Regions from separate parts of the Homo sapiens genome. Here regions 1 and 2 are each reported to be linked to region 3. The links are microRNA targets in miRTarBase. Many come from high-throughput screens and were not tested one by one. Region 3 holds a microRNA gene; each other region holds the end of a gene's coding sequence.
The links. The annotated mature microRNA hsa-miR-1224-3p reads CCCCACCUCCUCUCUCCUCAG and lies in region 3 at 1,180-1,200, opposite strand. An mRNA with a match to its seed (bases 2 to 7 or 8) in the 3' UTR can be bound and repressed. Matches are read on the target gene's strand: a 7mer-m8 pairs with bases 2 to 8, a 7mer-A1 pairs with bases 2 to 7 and ends in A, and an 8mer does both.

Region 1: the mRNA of ASB16 is a reported target of hsa-miR-1224-3p. The part of its 3' UTR that is shown has no 7-base or 8-base seed match.
Region 2: the mRNA of ANGPTL7 is a reported target of hsa-miR-1224-3p. Seed matches in the 3' UTR shown: 8mer at 2,207-2,214.

The regions. Positions count from the first base shown.
Region 1 is chr17:44,177,621-44,180,961 of GRCh38, reverse strand. ASB16 (ankyrin repeat and SOCS box containing 16) reads right to left here. Exons shown (of 5, transcript NM_080863.5): 4 at 3,240-3,341; 5 at 1,878-2,757. The coding sequence ends at 2,572. All of the region lies in intron 2 of ASB16-AS1 (ASB16 antisense RNA 1), which reads left to right. Among named protein-coding and RNA genes, the nearest start is that of ASB16-AS1, 7.4 kb to the left of the region's middle.
Region 2 is chr1:11,194,358-11,197,698 of GRCh38, reverse strand. ANGPTL7 (angiopoietin like 7) reads right to left here. Exons shown (of 5, transcript NM_021146.4): 4 at 3,040-3,238; 5 at 1,718-2,845. The coding sequence ends at 2,676. All of the region lies in intron 28 of MTOR (mechanistic target of rapamycin kinase), which reads left to right. Among named protein-coding and RNA genes, the nearest start is that of ANGPTL7, 6.7 kb to the right of the region's middle. RefSeq lists a silencer at 3,020-3,220.
Region 3 is chr3:184,239,644-184,242,668 of GRCh38, reverse strand. It overlaps MIR1224 (microRNA 1224), which reads right to left and starts at 1,264; the gene lies at 1,180-1,264. VWA5B2 (von Willebrand factor A domain containing 5B2) reads right to left here. Exons shown (of 20, transcript NM_001390846.1): 16 at 2,633-2,980; 17 at 1,741-1,878; 18 at 1,562-1,645; 19 at 1,265-1,482; 20 at 340-1,179. The coding sequence ends at 631. ALG3 (ALG3 alpha-1,3- mannosyltransferase) reads left to right here. Exons shown (of 9, transcript NM_005787.6): 9 at 1-368. The coding sequence ends at 155. RefSeq lists a silencer at 454-748.

The DNA of each region.
Region 1 (3,341 bases), not on the chromosome of region 3:
GGGGCGGCTGGCCGGGCGGAGGGCTGACCCCCCACACCTCCCTCCCGGACGGGGCGGCTGGCCAGGCGGGGGGCTGACCCCCCTACCTCCCTCCCGGACGGGGCGGCTGGCCGGGTGGGGGGGCTGACCCCCCCATCTCCCTCGCGGACGGGGTGGCTGGCCGGGCTGAGGGGCTCCTCACTTCCCAGTAGGGGCGGCCGGGCAGAGGCGCCCCTCACCTCCCGGACGGGGCGGCTGGCCGGGCGGGGGGCTGACCCCCCCACCTCCCTCCCGGACGGCACGGCTGGCCAGGCGGGGGGCTGACCCCCCCACCTCCCTCCCGGATGGCACGGCTGGCCGGGCGGGGGGGCTGACCCCCCACCTCCCTCCCGGATGGGGCGGCTGGCCGGGCGGGGGGCTGACCCCCCCCCCACCTCCCTCCCGGATGGGGTGGCTGCCCGGCGGAGACGCTCCTCACTTCCCAGATGGGGTGGCTGCCGGGCGGAGAGGCTCCTCACTTCTCAGACGGGGTGGTTGCCAGGCAGAGGGTCTCCTCACTTCTCAGACGGGGCGGCCGTGCAGAGACGCTCCTCACCTCCCAGACGGGGTCTCGGCCGGGCAGAGGCGCTCCTCACATCCCAGATGGGGCGGCGGGGCAGAGGCGCTCCCCACATCTCAGACGATGGGCGGCCGGGCAGAGACGCTCCTCACTTCCTAGATGTGATGGCGGCTGGGAAGAGGCGCTCCTCACTTCCTAGATGGGATGGCGGCCGGGCGGAGACGCTCCTCACTTTCCAGACTGGGCAGCCAGGCAGAGGGGCTCCTCACATCCCAGACGATGGGCGGCCAGGCAGAGACGCTCCTCACTTCCCAGACGGGGTGGCAGCCGGGCAGAGGCTGCAATCTCGGCACTTTGGGAGGCCAAGGCAGGCGGCTGCTCCTTGCCCTCGGGCCCCGCGGGGCCCGTCCGCTCCTCCAGCCGCTGCCTCCCGGGCGGCGCTCGCCGGCGCGGCGGCAAAGACTGAGACAGCTCCGCTGCCCGCTGAACTCCATCCTCCCGGCGGTCGGGCGGCGGCGGCTGCGGTCGGTCGCGGCAGCGGCTCCGCTTCATATCTGCAGCTGGGGCCCGCGGGCGTCAGCGCCGCGACTGTCCCAGTCCGCACTGCCCCGGGCCGCAGCGCAGCCGCGCCAACCACCACCCGCGGCCACCATGGCCAGACGGGCTCCCTAAGCCACCGACCCCAGCCCGCGGTGCCTTCGAGCCTTCTGGGGCCTCCGGCGCCGCGACCTCCTCTGCGCTCCTCACGGAAGACTTTTTTTTTTTTTTTTTTTTAAGACGGAGTCCCGCTCTGTTGCCCAGGCTGGAGTACAGCGGTGCGCGATCTTGGCTCATTGCAACCTCCACCTCCCAGGTTCAAGTGATTCTCCTGCTTCAACCTCCTGAGTAGCTGAGATTACAGGCATCCGCCACTATGCCCGGCTAATTTTTGTATTTTTAGTAGAGACAGGGTTTCACCATGTTGGCCAGGCTGGTCTAGAACTCCTGACCTCGTGATCCGCCCACCTCGGCCTCCCAAAGTGCTGGGATTACAGGCATGAACCACTGCGCCTGGCCTAATTTTTTGTATTTTTAGTAGAGACAGGGTTTTACCATGTTGGTCAGGTTGGTCTCAAACTCCTGACCTCAGGTGATCCTCCCGCCTCAGTCTCCCAAAGTGCTGGGATTACAGGTGTAAGCCACTGCACTCAGCTTGTTTTAAAGAGTTTTGATTTTAGTGTGAGAGGAGCCACTGGAGGGCATGATCAGAGTTTGACTCCCAAAGACCATTCCAGCACCAATTCAGGGCATGGGTCTCAAGATCTCCCTTGGAGTGACAAAGGCAGGGCAGGCAAGCCAGTGCACGCAGAGACAGAGTTTGTCCCTCTTTAGGAGGCTGAACAGGTATAAGGGTGGCAGGAGAGGGAGGTGGTGGGCCACTAGAATCACTGGTTCTTGGCATGGGACCTGGATGGATAGAGGGGCCATCCACTTAAACACAGGAGGAGAAGGGAGGTGAAGGCCGAGTCTGGGAACAGGCCGAGTCTGCAGCCCTTCCTGCTGGAGAGAGGGTCTGAAGCTCAGGTCCGGCTAGAGGTCAGCAGGTGTCTCAAGAAGCCCATGGAGGAGTGAGGTGGACCAGGACAGCACGTGGAGTACAGAAAAGAGGGGCAGGCAACCAGGCGCAGTGGCTCATGCCTGTAATCCCAACACTTTGGGAGGCCAAGGCGGGTGGATCACCTGAGGTCAGTGTGAGACCAGCCTGGCCAACATGGTGAGACCCTGTCTCTACTAAAAATACAAAATCAGCCAGGTGTGGTGACTCATGCCTGTAGTCCCAGCTACTCGGAAGTTTGGGGCACAAGAATCGCTTGAACCTAGGTGGTAGAAGTTGCAGTGAGCCGAGATAGCGCCACTGCACTCCAGCCTGGGCAACAGAGTGAGACTAGGTCTCAAAAAGAAAAGAAAAGAGGGCCAGGAACTGGTCCTCCGCAGTTGGAGGCGGGGACAGGTGGGAGGGGCAGAACACACCATGGGACAGCCTGACATGGGGTTCACTGGATGCACCCCTCCACACGCAGCAGCAGGTAGTCCCTGAGGAGCGGGGGCAGTGGCAGCCGGGTGGCACCCTGCCGGCAGCGGCTTCCCAACCGAGCGCGCACAGCTAGTCGGGCCAGGTGCTGCAGCTGCCTTGGCTGGTTCACCATGCACAGGGCCGAGCTGTAGAAGGCTTCGTGCTCCTAGGCCAGGAGTGAAAGAAGGTCAGATGACCCTTGCCCTACCATCTGGGGGCAACCCAGCGGTGGGGGTCCTGGGATTTTGCAGCATGCACCCACCTGGGTGTTTCATGTGTCTCAAAGGACTCAGATTCAGAACCATAGAGGCCCTGCAGTGATAATGCGGGCTGGGGCTCCACTTCAGGGAAGGGTCTCCACTATGTCTATACCACTCCCACCCCAGAGAGCCTAGCACAGTGCCCACCAAGTTAAGAGATGCCAGATAAATGTCTGTGCTGATGCAAGTGAGGGAGGCAGGAGAGGTGTGTGGAGTTAGGGGTCAGCCTGGGGTACCGGGGGAGGGGGTACCCTGAAACCCAGGGGTGCCACTCTACCCATCCTCTCTACCCAGGGGCCCTCCTGCTGCTCCCTCCATGAGGCTGGTCCTGAAGGAATAGGCCTGTGGCTCGTCCCTCCTCCCCATCTCGGCCCTGAGGCAAACATACCTTCCACAGCTCTGGGAGCACCGCCTCCACCCAGGTCTCACAGGATGGGACACAAGGATAGGCATTAAGCAGGACTTCCAGGGCCCGAGGGAAGTTGGCGCA
Region 2 (3,341 bases), not on the chromosome of region 3:
GTGGTGGCGCACATCTGTATTCCCAGCTCCTTGAGAGGCTAAGGCAGGAGAATTGCTTGAACCTGGGAGGTGGAGGTTGCAATGAGCCAAGATTGCGTCACTGTACTCTAGCCTGGATGACAGCGAGATTCTGTCTCAATAAAAAAGTGAATGAATGAGTGAATGAATGAATGCTGTTACTGGGGAAAGCCAGTGTGCTCGGCTCTTTGGGTGTCCTCAGCTAAGTCAGCTCAGCTTGCATTTCTGCCTCCCTTCTGCTGGTCTCCTGTGTCTTCCCATCACCTTTCTTTTTTTGCTTCCAATTGCAGTTTTTACTTCTGATTTTGTAAAGCTGCTTTTCCTAAGCCCGGTTGTGGTGGTATACTGTCGTCTTTACTGAAGGAAGTTTTAAGAAACAGCCTTAGACAAAGTTGCTCATAGCACTACCCCTAGTTCTGTGGGTGAGCCTCATGGAAATTCTTCTCAGGGGTCTTTTCCCACTGTTGGTTTTATGTCCCTGAGCCACTACTTGGATCTGGCCTTGGAGACATCGCTTTGCAGTAAGGGATTGAATTCCTTCCTCACAGTGGCTGCTAGAGAGCTTGAAGCTAAATTCCTGGTCTACCTCCAACAAATTCCAGACATCTTACCTGTTTTTACTACTAACCCTCCCCCAACCCCCACAGGCTTTGTTTTATTTTTCCTACTCTTATTTTCCCTTCACCAAGTTGTCTGCTTTTTCAGAGCTTATTTTAGTATATACATTTGAGTCAACTTCCCTAAATTCTTTTTGAAACAATTAGGGTAGCCCTACACAAAAACATCTTTGTTCAGCTATTTCTTTTCTTTTCTTTTCTTTTTTTTTTTTTTAGATGGAGTCGCGCTCTGTCTCCAGGCTGGAGTGCAGTGGCACAATCTTGGCTCACTGCAACCTCCACCTCCTAGATGCAAGCGATTCTCCTGCCTCAGCTTCCTAAGTAGCTGGGACTACAGGCGCATGCCACCATGCCCAGCTAATTTTTGTATTTTTAGTAGAAAGGGGTTTCACCATGTTGGCCAGGATGGTCTCACTCTCTTGACCTCGTGATCCACCCGCCTCGGCCTCCTAAAGTGCTGGGATTACAGGCGTGAGCCACCGCGTGCAGCTATTTCTTATTTTTTTGTCTTTGCTTTAAAAAACTGTGTTCTGTTGACAGTATTGTTCTCTTGCTACTAGTTCAATCCGTCTTGCAACCTATTGACTTTTTTAACCTATCTGCTACAGGGCAAATTAAATCCGAGATGTAATCCCAAATCAGGGCTAACACTGAGATAGTATAAACTACCCCCATCTCCTTAAAGCTCACATATCAGTAAATATATTTGCTTTCTTGGGGACAGAGGATTGAGTGGTTATTTGTTAGAAAGCGCACACACACCACTTTTACTTGGTTAGCCCCGAGCATTAGGGTAAGGTCTGCTGGCCTGTTTTTGCTTCTCTATCCTAAGTAGAATAGAGGGTCTGATAAGGCTGGATGCCTTCACTGCCCAGCCCCAGACGTGTAATCCCCTTTATGAAGAATTGTCCTGGTTGCTGCCCTTTTGTCCCTTACCTGTTCCCTTTTGGCTTCTGCTCCCCGCTTGGTTGCCCTGAACACCAAAACAAACCCCGGGCCTCTGTCACTGCTCACCCTCTGATTTAACTTTAACTTTTTATCCTGCTGTAAGTGGTAATGGTAAGAATTTAAAAAGAAGATACTCACATTTTGAAAGTGTTTATTGTAGAAGGAAAAGAAACGTTGAATGTTTAAAACAAAACCACAATATTTTATTTTTACAAAGTGAGATGCTTATTTACAGCATTTATTATTAACTATAACACCATCTACCTTCAGTTTTCAACCATTTCCTACAGACAAAATTTAAAAGGAAGCTCCTTGAGCTTGTTTCTTACAAAGTAAATAAAAATAGATATACCTGTATTAACTATGAATATTTTAAGGCAGTTTTGTGCCGGCATCCATGAGAGACTCTGTCCACCTCCTGCTGGTGCTTCATTCCTTTCAGTGCTGTACATGACCAAGGCGAGCAGGGGCAGTGCTCAGAGTCTGATCGCCAGATGCAGTGCCCTGGAGTTTCCTCCCCGCAAGTCCAGCCTGGGTCAGTTCCAGCCGAACAATTTTTGTGTTTTAAAAATAATGTGTAGACTCAAGATAATTTCACTGGATTTAAAAATAGAAATACCATTTCCCACCTGCCTCCTTCACTCCTTTCTCTAACACTCAAAGGCCTATCCTTTGAGAATCAAAATAATATGGTTCTTTTTAGCAAAGGGATTTGTGTTTTGCCCTCACATAGCCTAAGCCGTAGAGAAAATAGATAAAACGATCTCAAAATTATTTTCTTTCACAGACAAATCATGTGGAAAAGACAAGCTACTGCTATGTCAGGGATCTTGGGCAGAGAGACCCCACTCAGTCTACCACCTTGAGAAGGATGTGGCAGGACCCAGTGGGTTTAAATAGTTCATCCTGTTTACTGTAACATCCTTGGTACATATGATTTTTTTGTGCTCCTTGGAGACTTATTCTTTCTTTGGAGATTATAGGCTGTTTCTCAGTCCTACCCTTTCTAACACTCTCTTCCTGTCCTCATCTGCCCTCATCCAGTCTCCACGTGTCTCAGTTTCTGTATCCGTGCTCCACGGCAGCCTCCTTTTAAGGCTTGAAGTCTTCTGGGCGGATTTTCATCTCCACCCGTTTGAGGGAGTAGGTAGATCCATGCCAGCCATACCAGGTGATGCCATCCAGGTGCTTATTGTGCTCACCCAGGCGGTAGTACACTCCATTGAGGTTGGAGTCTGTGCAGCAGTTGTACCAGTAGCCACCTGGCATGAGAAACAGACCCAGTGCTAGTAAGTTGACTGTGATAGACCAGACATCAGGTAAGGAGTTAGAGCCAGGGTCAGAAAGAATACCAAAACCGGAATATCAACTGTACAGTTATAATTCACTCTTTCTCCTCAAGTGGGATTATGAGCTTGTACCTGAACTTCTCCTTTCCGGTCCCCCCAAATCTCACCTTTGCGGAGCTGTGCACACTTGTCCAAGCAGTTGTCATTGTCCTTGTCCTTGGTGCTGAAGGCTGTGTTGTTATGATACTGGAGGGCGTCGTTCCCCACATTGCCAGTGTAGTTCCCCAGGAAGAGGCGATAGCTGTTGAGTTCATTGCCCAAAACAAAGTGGCTATACTCAGCGTAGCGCAGGTTGCCCTCCCAGTCCTGTCAGGAGGAGCAGAGCCTTAAAGAAAGTGCAGCAGGCTCCATTTCATGCTGTCTCTATACCCCTTCTCTCCTGACAGTCCCATAGCCAAACATCTTTTTA
Region 3 (3,025 bases):
TGCTGGGGCTCATCGAGCTCTCCTGGAACACATACCCTTCCACATCCTGCAGCTCTGCTGCCCTGCACATATGCCATGCCGTCATCCTGCTGCAGCTCTGGCTGGGCCCGCAGCCTTTCCCCAAGAGCACCCAACACAGCAAGAAAGCCCACTGAAGTCCACCCCTTTCCCTCAGGACCTGAGTCTACCCTCAGGACCTGGGGTTGGTTGGACTCTGCCCTTCCAAATAAACCTTGCTAAGTCCAACTCTGTGCAACCTACATGGAGGTGGGGGCAGCCGATGCCTGGTCCAGGCTGTGAGGGACACGTATGGAGCAGATAAAGAATTCACTCAAGCAGTCCTAAGAGGCACTTTATTGCATAGGATTTGGGGACTGTGGCTCTCTACCCTTCCACTGTGTTGCAGGGAGCTCAGAGGATGGAGGGGAGTGTGAGTGGGGTGGGAGGAGAGGGAGAGAGCACAGGCAGGCACTTTTTGTGGGGGCAAGAGGGCTCTAGGGAGGGAGTAAGAAGCAGTGGGGGACAGGCTGGCACCAGCCTACACTTTCCCAGCACCAAGAGGCCAGCCCTGGGCGGCAGTGACTTGAGTGTGTTGGGTGGGGCGCCAGCCCAAGCAGCAGGGGGCAGCCTTCACACGTTCGCTGGGCTGTAGCACAGCAGGTGTAGCTGCAGGTTTTGGTCCCAGTGGCGCAGTAGCAGGAAGAGCCCTCGGGCTGCGGCCTTGAGGGCGGCCAGGTCAAGGCCGTCAGGCAAGTGCTGGGCCCGCAGCCAGCAATCAGCCTTGGCCGCTGTCAGTTCCCACTCGTCGAAGGCAGCGGCGCATCGGTGCTCCAGCCAGGCGAGTGCTACGGCAGTGGCCCAGGTCCGGCCCCGCAGGTCGGTGCCGCCCAGCCCTTCCGCCCCCTCGGAGGCCTCGGTGTCTGAGCCCCGCCCACTGTCCACCTGGCCTGGCCCCTCAGAGCCCGAGCTGGGGGACGGGCTGCAGGAGGCCGTGGCACTGTCACCCTGGCCAACACCAGGGCCCAGAAGTGCCCAGGGCAATGAGGCCGAGGTGGGGCTGAGGCTGGCGCGGTGCACGGCAAAGGGCGAGGCACGGCAGAGGCGCTCCTGCGAGATGCGCACAGCGGCGCAGAAGGGCGCGTCCAGGCGGAAGGAGCCTGGTGCCTCCTGCAGCCGCACCTGAGGAGAGAGGAGGTGGGGGGAGAAGCGAGCTGAAACAGCGCCCGGCCCCGGCGGCACCACCCTCCACCTCCCGAGTCCTCACCAAGGGCAGGTAGTCATGGTCGCTGCCTTCACTGTTGTTGGCCTGGCCCGGGTCAGGGCTACAGAGTTTGTGACGGCGGCCCATGCTGAGCCGACAGGGAGGACGGGGAGGTGGGCGGCGAGGACCTTCCGTGGGAGTGGCAGGGTCCCCCAAAGCACGCTTGGAGTTGCCATTTTGGTCCGAGTCCCAGGCGCCTGCTGGAGAGCCTCTCTGAAGTCCTGCAGTGGGGATCATCAGTGCCAGGGGGCGGTCTCTAAGCCCAAGTGCCCCTACCCTTTCCCTACCTTTGGGTGTTACCTTTAGAGTAGACAACAGTGGGCAGAGGAGCTGCATCTAGATGGCTGTGAGAGGCAGGAGGGGTTCCTGGGGGCTCAGCGGGCTCTGCAGGGGCACATGGGACAGGAGTCAGGTTTGTCCAGGAGAGTGGCCAGTGAGGTGAGAGCTGCACCTGAGAGGTCACCAGAAGAGGCCCCTACCTGAGCTGCACACCTGCAGGGCCCCAGGCAGGACCTCCCTAGTAGTAGCATCCACAGCTACAGGGCAAGTGAAGCAGGAGGGGGCAGAGCTGACCTTACTTGTCTGAAGGGCTCGAAGCCAGCACCTCCGGGCATGGCCTGTGGAACCAAGGAGCAGTCTGTGGAGCCCCCACCACCCACCCTCTACAGAGGGCTCATAGAAAAAATTGCAGTGTTCTCCCCAGCTTCTCCCTCTATCGACTTTAACAGAGTAGATTGCCTTGCTAGGCCCAGAACCAGCTCAGACTCCCCAACTTTGACAAGAAGTGATCAGGCTGAATCTTCAACCCATAGCAGAGCAAGAGCCCCCTGGCTGCCCAGAAATTCAGCACTCTGGACAACACCCAGAGGAAGCATTAGCTGGCACATTTTCCTCCACCTGCTTCTGCACTAATAAAACTTGGAAATGTTCTCTCTCTTCATGATCCAATGTGGTAGCCACTAGTCACATTTGACTATTGAGTACTTCAGCTGTGGTTAGTGCAACTGAGGAAATGAACTTTAAGTATTTTCCTAAATGACAAAGATTTGTTTTTACGTTGTGGGTGCTGTGAATCATGACAGGATCACGTTGCCCTCTGTGCTGGCTGCTAGGAAGCTTGTCAGTTCTGGATCTGATCCTTGCAAGAGTATATAACCTCACAGCATGCACCTTTAATATAACCTCATTCTCAGTTTCCTTTTATTTTTACTTTTTCCCATTGTCCCGCTTAATTTTTTATCTTGTCTGTGATGAGCCTCAAATCCTTTGTGATCAAAGCGAGGTATAGAGAGTGATCAAACACACAGACCTCTACCTTTGCTGTTTTTAGCCCATGCCTTTGGGTCCTGACTGGACCCATGAGCAACTCACCCCGGTCAGCTGTGGTCTCTGCCCCTCCTCGGAGGGCCAGCTGCTCATTGTCCCGGACCACAGAGGCTGCTGTCAGCCGATGGAGTGCTTGGTCCCAAGCAGCTTCTCTTACAGGAGGTGAGGGAGGCTGTGAGCCATCTCCAGGTCCCCACAGTGTCTCCAGCCCAACACCCACCTCCCAGCACATGGGCTGCTCCCCACACAGGCCCCGGATCACCACATGGCAGCGTGGAGCCTGGGGAGGCACTGCTGGAGGGGCCAACTCCCCACTAGGAGGCACAGCCGTGAATAAGAAGGGTGGTTCCATCAGCATGTCCCAGTCCATAGGGGCTGGGGAGAGCAGGTTTCCTGGGGAGGCAAGACAGCAGGGGCATGGGCAGAGTGGTCCTCTGG